Homo sapiens: one gene and its partner. The protein of the gene in region 2 purifies or fractionates together with the protein of the main gene of each other region. This does not show direct contact. Each region holds a gene or a part of one and is shown on either strand. Other genes may lie near its edges. The genes, in order: CIAO3 and BRIP1.

What was found.
Region 1: the proteins of BRIP1 (region 2) and CIAO3 purify together in Homo sapiens (affinity purification with western blotting, with the first as the bait; one study listed by BioGRID). This does not show direct contact.

The regions. Positions count from the first base shown.
Region 1 is NC_000016.10:738,728-742,643, forward strand, and holds the start of CIAO3 (cytosolic iron-sulfur assembly component 3), read right to left. Parts: upstream 2,271-3,916; 5' UTR 2,259-2,270; coding exon 2,193-2,258; intron 1,377-2,192; exon of another isoform or gene 1,295-1,376; intron 1,012-1,294; coding exon 916-1,011; intron 1-915.
Region 2 is NC_000017.11:61,797,223-61,801,038, forward strand, and holds part of BRIP1 (Fanconi anemia group J protein), read right to left. Parts: intron 2,078-3,816; coding exon 1,878-2,077; intron 1-1,877. UniProt on the Homo sapiens protein: DNA-dependent ATPase and 5'-3' DNA helicase required for the maintenance of chromosomal stability. Acts late in the Fanconi anemia pathway, after FANCD2 ubiquitination.

The DNA of each region.
Region 1 (3,916 bases), on a different chromosome or scaffold from region 2:
GTCCCTATCTCCCAGGTTCAAGTGATTCTCCTGCCTCACCCTCTTGAGTAGCTGGGATTACAGGCATGCGCCACGACACCCAACTAATTTTTGTATTTTTAGTACAGATGGGGGTTGGCCAGGCTGGTCTCGAACTCCTGACCTCAGGTGATCCGCCCCCCCTACCCTGGCCTCCCAAAGTGCTGGGATTACAAGCGTGAGCCACCGCGCCCAGCCTGAATTTTAACAGTTTCATCAGGATCTTATCACTTAGAGAGGAAGTACTATTCTTTAAGAATGAGGGGTCTGGGCTGGGCGCGGTGGCTCACGCCTGTAATCCCAGCACTTTGGGAGGCCAAGGCGGGTGGATCACGAGGTCAGGAGATTGAGACCATCCTGGCTAACACGGTGAAACCCCGTCTCTACTAAAAATACAAAAAACATTAGCTGGGCGTGGTGGTGGCCGCCTGTAGTCCCAGCTACTCGGGAGGCTGAGGCAGGAGAATGGTGTGAACCTGGGAGGCAGAGCTTGCAGTGAGCCGAGATCATGCCACTGCACTCCAGCCTGGGCCATCGAGGGAGACTCTGTATCAAACAAACAAACAAACAAACAAACAAAAGAACGAGGGGTCTGAATTAGAAAATCTTACATGGTTAGAACTAGGGGGAACAGGCAGACGCAGACAGGATCCACCATCTCTGCAAATAGCCCCTCTGCTGAGCAGATCAAGCTGTTTGGCCTGGGTGCTGCTCATTCACCTGCCCCAGGCACCCTGACCCCCAGCCTCCCAGATGGCAGGTGAATTCGACCAGTGGGAAAAGACTGGTGAGACCTGGAGTGTCTCGGGGTCACCGCTCTGTGACGGGAGGAAGCAGAGAAAAGTGTTTCGGATCAGCCGGGCAGGAGAGATGGTGGAGCAGCCTCCTGTGCCTTACTTGGTTAATTTGGAAGTAGCTCCCGTCATCTTCAATGCGAATCTTGGCCACGCCACTTCCCGCCCTTTTTTCCACTTTGACAGGCTTGATGCACTCCTAGAGCAGGAAGAGACCCCAAATCAGCCCCTGTGAGTGGGCGGAGGTTCCCTGGGAGGCCAGGCCTCAAGGATGGCTGCCCAGCCGCACAGCCTGAAGGCTCTGCCAGGAGCCATGCACTCAGGGACTGAGGCTGGTCCCACCGTCTTCTTCCTGCCCCACTGCTCTCACCCAGGGATCGGGTTCCCAACATCCTGCGGCACTGAAGTTCCCAGTGTGCAGGAAGGCCAGTGCTAACAGCGCCTGCAAACTACCCACCTGCGGAGACACCACCAACACTGACCTTCACCCTTCACGTGAACAGGGGGCGTGACCACCACAGAGACCAGAGTTGCACTGCCCATCGAGAGGACGTGTGCTTGGATCTGTTTGGAGACCACCTCCTGCTCAGTGCCCGGGAAACAAGTGGATTTCTCTCTCTTCTCCTTGAGAACCCTGGCAGCCCAGAAAGCCGCCTCCCAGCTCATCCCTGCCGGAAGCGCTCCCAGCAGCCCGCCTCTCGCCCTGCTCAGCTCTGGCCCCGCGGGGCTGTTGGACATGGACAGGCAGGTGCACCCAGAAAAGGGCGCCTGCAGCCTCCCGGGTTCAAGGGTAGCTGTCCGGCCCACCAGGGCGACGTTAAGGACAGCTCTACTGAGGAGCCACTGCGGGGCGTCTAGCGGGCCGCCCCTACTGCCCTCAAATGAGGTGGGGTCCCCACCGCACCCGTTTATGCAGATGCAAAGGCTGTGGCTTGGGGGTCCTGAGGCCTGACAAGGCGTCCTGCGCAGGGGAAGGGGAAGAGGCCCCGGCCCGGGCCCCGCCGCCCTCCAGCTGCGACCCAGGGGTCGGGTTAGGGTTAGGGATGTGTGGGAGCCGCCTCTGCTGCCTCCTCTGGGTTGGGCAGGCCGGCGCGAGCCCGCGACCACGGGACCCTCCCACGCAGCCCGCCCGGACACCATGGGGCACAGGAGCGGGTTGGGGGGCGCCGCCCTCCCTGGCCTCAGTTTCCTTGTTGGTAAGAAGCGGGCCTCAGTGTCTGAGGCCCCGCGCCCGGGTCGATAGAGTCCCTGACGGCCCAGACCGGGCTCCCGGGATTCGGATCTCATTCCTCAGGGGAGGAAGTGGGGCGCAGAGCAATTTCCCTCCGCGCGACAGGGCACCGAGCGCAGCCTCGACCCCGCCCGCCCAGGCCGGCCCACCTGAGACGGCCCGATGAAGTCATCCAGGTCCGTCAGCTGCAGCGCCCCGCTGAAGGGCGACGCCATGACGGCCGCACTGCCGCCGCGCGCAGGTGTCGCTAAACGGCGCGAAACGAAGTGGCTGGTTCCGCCACGCTGCCGGAAAGCGCCCCCAGGACGCATGCGCACCTCGTCCCGGGGCCGGCGCCCTCTGCTGACGAGCCCCGGCGCTGCGGCTCCCCGCCCACCTCGCGGGAACCCGGGACCTACCGCTTCGTCCACCTCCCGCGCGCCCCAGGCCCCGGGTTGGGGTGCAGGGGGCGCAGGGGTTGGTCGGGCCAGCGCCGCAGCTCCGGCCCCGGAGTCTCTCCGCCTTCACAAGGAAGCGGAGGGGATCTGGCTCCGTCCATTTCCTCATCCTCTGCGTACCTGCGGACCAGGTGCTCCCGGATGCAACCCAAGAACCCGGAACGCGCCTGGCACACAGGAGGCGCTCAGCTCGTGTTGGGGAATTCAGGCAGGGAAGAAAGCATGGATAGGCACGAGGTCTCCCCTTCCTGGGGAGCCGCTCCCAGGGCCTCCAGCCCCTTTTTCTGTTATCTTGGAGACCAGTCTGGAAAAGTCCATGCCCCTGGGAGACCCTGAAACAGGACCCTGTGGGCCGACTCGCTTTTCGTTTTTTTCTTTTTTTGAGACAGAGTCTCGCTCTGTCGTCCAGGCTGGAGTGCAATGGCGCGATCTCGGCTCACTGCAAGCTCTACCTCCTGGGTTCAAGCGATTCTCCTGCCTCAGCCTCCCGAGTAGCTGGGACTACAGGCGCCCACCACCACGCCCGGCTAATTTTTTGTATTTTTAGTAGAGACGGGGTTTCACCGTGTTAGCCAGGATGGTCTCGAACTCCTGACCTCGTGATCTGCCCGCCTCAGCTTCCCAAAGTGCTGGGATTACAGGCGTGAGCCACCGCGCCCGACCCCGACTCACTTTTTTTTTTTTCTTTTTTGAGACAGAGTCTCACTCTGTTGCCCAGGCTGGAGTGCAGTGGCGCGATCTCGGCTCACTGCAACCTCTGCCGCCTGGGTTCAAGCAATTCTCCTGCCTCAGCTTCCCGAGTAGCTGGGATTACAGTCACCTGCCATTGCATCCGGCTAATGTTTGTAGTTTTAATTAGAGACTGGGTTTCACCATGTTGGCCAGGCTGGTCTTGAACTCCTTACCTAGTGATCCACCCACCTCAGCCTCCCAAAGCGCTGGGATTACGGGCATGAGCCACCGCGCCTGGCCAGTTACATGTATATCTGGCATCATATGGCCAGTTACATGTCTAATGGCCAGTTTTATGGGGACTTTTCAGGAAACTCCTGGATCGAGGCTGGCATCTTTCCGGCCCAAGCAGGCTCAGCCCATGGAGATCTCACAGTGGCAACATCCTAGGTCCCAGCCTGCGCCGCACCCTCCCCAGGGTTCTAGGCCCTGATTCTGACCACATGTCCCCACCTGGATGCGGCCTGGGCACTCCTGCACCTGCCTGTGGGGTTTGGGCCACCAGCCTGTGTGGCCTTCTCCATCACCTGCAGCTGCTCCTCTCGGCCAGACAGGACTTTCTTCTGCTGCTGCACGGAGGAGCTTTCCCCAGCACCTGGGCCAGGTGAGCTTCCAGGTCCCAGCCATCCCGCCACCTGGCAATACCTGGCCGAGCTTGGAGATTAGGGGCTGAAATATCTTCTATTAAAAATAGAACAGGGGGT
Region 2 (3,816 bases):
ACTAGGTCCCAGTACCAAGTAAGTCCTGAGGCACCCCAACATTTAGATATCAAAAAGAATAAGAATTATCAAAAGAAATGATAAAAAAAAATGGACTGTGAGAAGGAGGAAAATCAGAGATGTCACAGAAGCTAAGACAAAAATGCTTTTCAAAGAGGTAGTCATCAACTACCCAACACCACTGACTGGCTGAGATAAAAGAAACAATAACCTCTGTATTTGGCAATATAGAGATCACTAGTGATCTTGATCAAAACAATTTGCGTAGAATTGTCCAGAGAGCAACACTGCTAAGATCGATGAGGGAAGAATGTCAAGTGAGAAAATAGAATTAGCAACTACAGACAACTCTTTCAACAAGTTATGCTGTAAAATAAAAACCACAAAAATCTGCATGGCAAAACACCACCAGAAAAGACACAAATGGCAAAATGGGGTGGAAAGTATTTACAACTCTTATTGCAGGCAAAGATTTTAATTCCCTAATATATGAATGGGGTTCTATAAATCATTAAGAAAAAGAACCACAATAAGAACAAAAAAAGGACAGAGATGTCAACAGGCAGTTGACACAAAAGGAAATATAAATGGCCTTTAAAGATGCTTAATTTCATGCATATTAAGGAAAATGAATATTAAAACTACATTGGGATACCACTTTTCACCTAGCAGGCTAGAAGAAAACAATTTCCATACTCTTATACATTGCTGGTAGAAGCATACATTAGCCCCCCTGTCATCCACCTATTGTGTAAATGTTAGCTATATCTATTGAAATTACAAATATGTCTATGCTTTCACCCAACAATTCCACTTCTAAAAAGATTCCTATAGATATATTTGCATACAAATGAAATTATGTATGTTCAAAGTTATTCATTATAGCAGTTTAAGAGCAAAAAACTAGAAACAACCTCCTCTATTAATCAGAGGCTGGTTAAATAAACTATTGCATATCTATCTAATGGAATTCTAGATATCTATTTTTTTTTTAAACTGAGAAAGCTTTCTAGGTCTTAACATGGAAAGGTCTCCAAAATACACTGGGAATTGAAAAAAGCAAGTTGCAGAAAAATGTATGTATACTATGCCATCATTTGGAAAATAGTGAGGGACAAGAAAATATATCTAATATTGGTTCATAAATGAGTAATATGCATTGAATGATAAACTTGTTTAGGAGAACACAGACATTAAACAGATCAGGGATGGAACTGGAAGGAGGTTTTTACTATACAAATTTGTATACATTTTGTCTTCAAACCATGTGACTGTGTAACATTCAAATTTTTTTAAAGTGTAAATGTGAAGGAAACAGAAAAATGCTACAATAAATGAAATGGGATTCAGAGTTGGGAAGTTTTTTTCTATGGTAACAAGATTCTAGATCAACAACTTAATGTCTAATAAAAGAAAAATTAGTGTAAATTGTCATAAAGCTAGTACTAAATATATTATTTTAGAGTACTGAAATCTTGATTAATTAAAACCCATGAAACTAGAATCCTATTTAAATTGGAGAATAAAGCAATAAATTAAAGCCATGATCCAGAATTTTAAAATATATTAATTAAAAGCACGTTTAGTTTCTGGTTCAATATCCTAGACACATCCTTCGGGGCTATTATGTTATCCTGCCAAATTAGGAATAAGATTCACAATTATTCATTTTTAAAAATCACTTATGTTCATTATATTCTTGTGAACAAGACAAAAGGTTGGACTAGCCTTGTTTTTAAAGCTTAACTGGCAAGGAACAATTCATTTCCCAAGAAGCCTAGTTAACCAAAGTTTACTAACTTTAAATACTCTGGCATAATCAAACATATTTTTCATATAAAGGCAGCACAAATACACTAATAGACAAATCTTCTTACTTAATGAGGCTACAGCACACAGCTCGTAGGGGTTCATGATCTTTCTTCCTTATATTATTGTTGACCATACTATCTAGTTCATCCCGAGCAAACCGAAGCTGAACTTCTGTTACACTGTAACTTGCTGATTCCCGAGCACAGTCCTCGATGTTATGAGCTTCATCTAAAATGACAACCTGTTCTTTCAGATTTAAATCCATCTATAAGATAAAAGAATTTTCTTGTAAAACATTTGGCAAAATAGATTTAACAACAGCAGGCAAGATATTTCATTTTAAAATTCACACTATAGGCCAATATTGCAAATGCAATTACATAAGCAACAGAGATTCTAGGTCTTAAATAAAACTTCTGAAGCACTATGGCCAACCAAATATCAGCTCTACATTATTGTGTTTGCCATTTTTTTACTCTTAAAATACTTTGCAAACCTATCGACAGCAACAAAAATATGTCAGTGAGTCTGGATCAAGGTACCACAGGCTACACAGAAAGGTATAAAATCCCACTATGAAAGTGTTTCCAACATAATTTTACAAACTAATTATAAGACCTTTAAAAATAAAATAACAATATAAGATTAAAAGCATAAGACCTTTAAAAGTAAAATAACAATACAAGATTAAAAGCATAAAACCTTTAAAAGTAAAATAACAATACAAGATTAAAATGACTCTTAAAATACTAACATAATATATATGTTTTGTTTTAATCTGTCCTGCAATCCTTCTCCAACATGGGAGTTGGAGAATTGTTCTTCTCCAACTCCCATGTGATGCTGGCAGGACTATTAACCTGTGAATCAAAGGACATCACCACTTTCACAATGGGGGTAAGGCCCAGGATTGTCAGTTAAATAGAGTATTCCATCCTTCTGTGGTCACAGTGACTGGTTCAGGTTCAGGAACAGACATGTGATCCACGGTAGGCCAACCAGAGTAATTTGGAGGGACTAATATGTGGCCATGCTCTTTTCTCCAGGTGAGCTAGCTGCTTATGGTTATCTTTGTTCCATAAGCAAGAGTGAGAACTTGCCTGAGAATAAAGCCATCACAATAAAGAGAATCAAGTATTTTTTCTTAAGCATTTTTTAGGGTAGGTTTGTGTCACTTGCAATAGAAAGAGTACTGACTAATACAAGGAACTGTCACAAAGCAATTGTCAATGAGTTATTTTGAGGAAGTAAGAATACACAGACAGCTGAAAAGTTGAGAAAAAACCATGGAAGAGTAGGAAATATATTGGGGTTTAAAAGATAAGTAGGATTTGGATTTGGACAGACAAAGAGTGGACAGGGCATTCCAAAGAGGTGTCATCAAAAGCAAAGATAGAGTAAAGAACAAGGTATCCTCAAGGGAGTATGAGGTAATTTTTGAAGGATTCAAATTGGGCAGATCCAGGTCAGACTATTGAGCATCTTGAGTGTAAGCTTAAGAAATATGAACTTTATCTCATGAGCAAAGGAAGCAATAGATTTTTAGGCAGATAAAAGGATGTAATAAAAGCAATATTTGGAAAACTGACCTGGCATTGATATGCACAGTGTCTCAGAAGGAAGAGATCTAGTTAAGAGATAACCAAATAAGAGGTAGGATAGAAGGGGTAGTAAACATAATGCCTATTAATTTGGATCTTAAAGAAATAGAAAGCTGAGATGAATTGTGCAGTCAGATCTGAAGACAGGAATAACAATTGACTATGCCAAATTATTCACTTTTTGTCTTATGCTGTTAACAATTGCATGTCTCTAAAAAGAACCAGGCAAACAAACACAAATGCCATTATCTGAAGTTCACTTCTCAAAGCTCACAAGGCATAATTTTATTCCCCCACATAAGTTCTTCAAAACATAGTTTTTTCAGAGAAATGTTTCTAAATAATTCTTTTTGAATATTCATAAATGCAAAGAGAAATCCTGCTGTAATCCCACTTCAGTCAC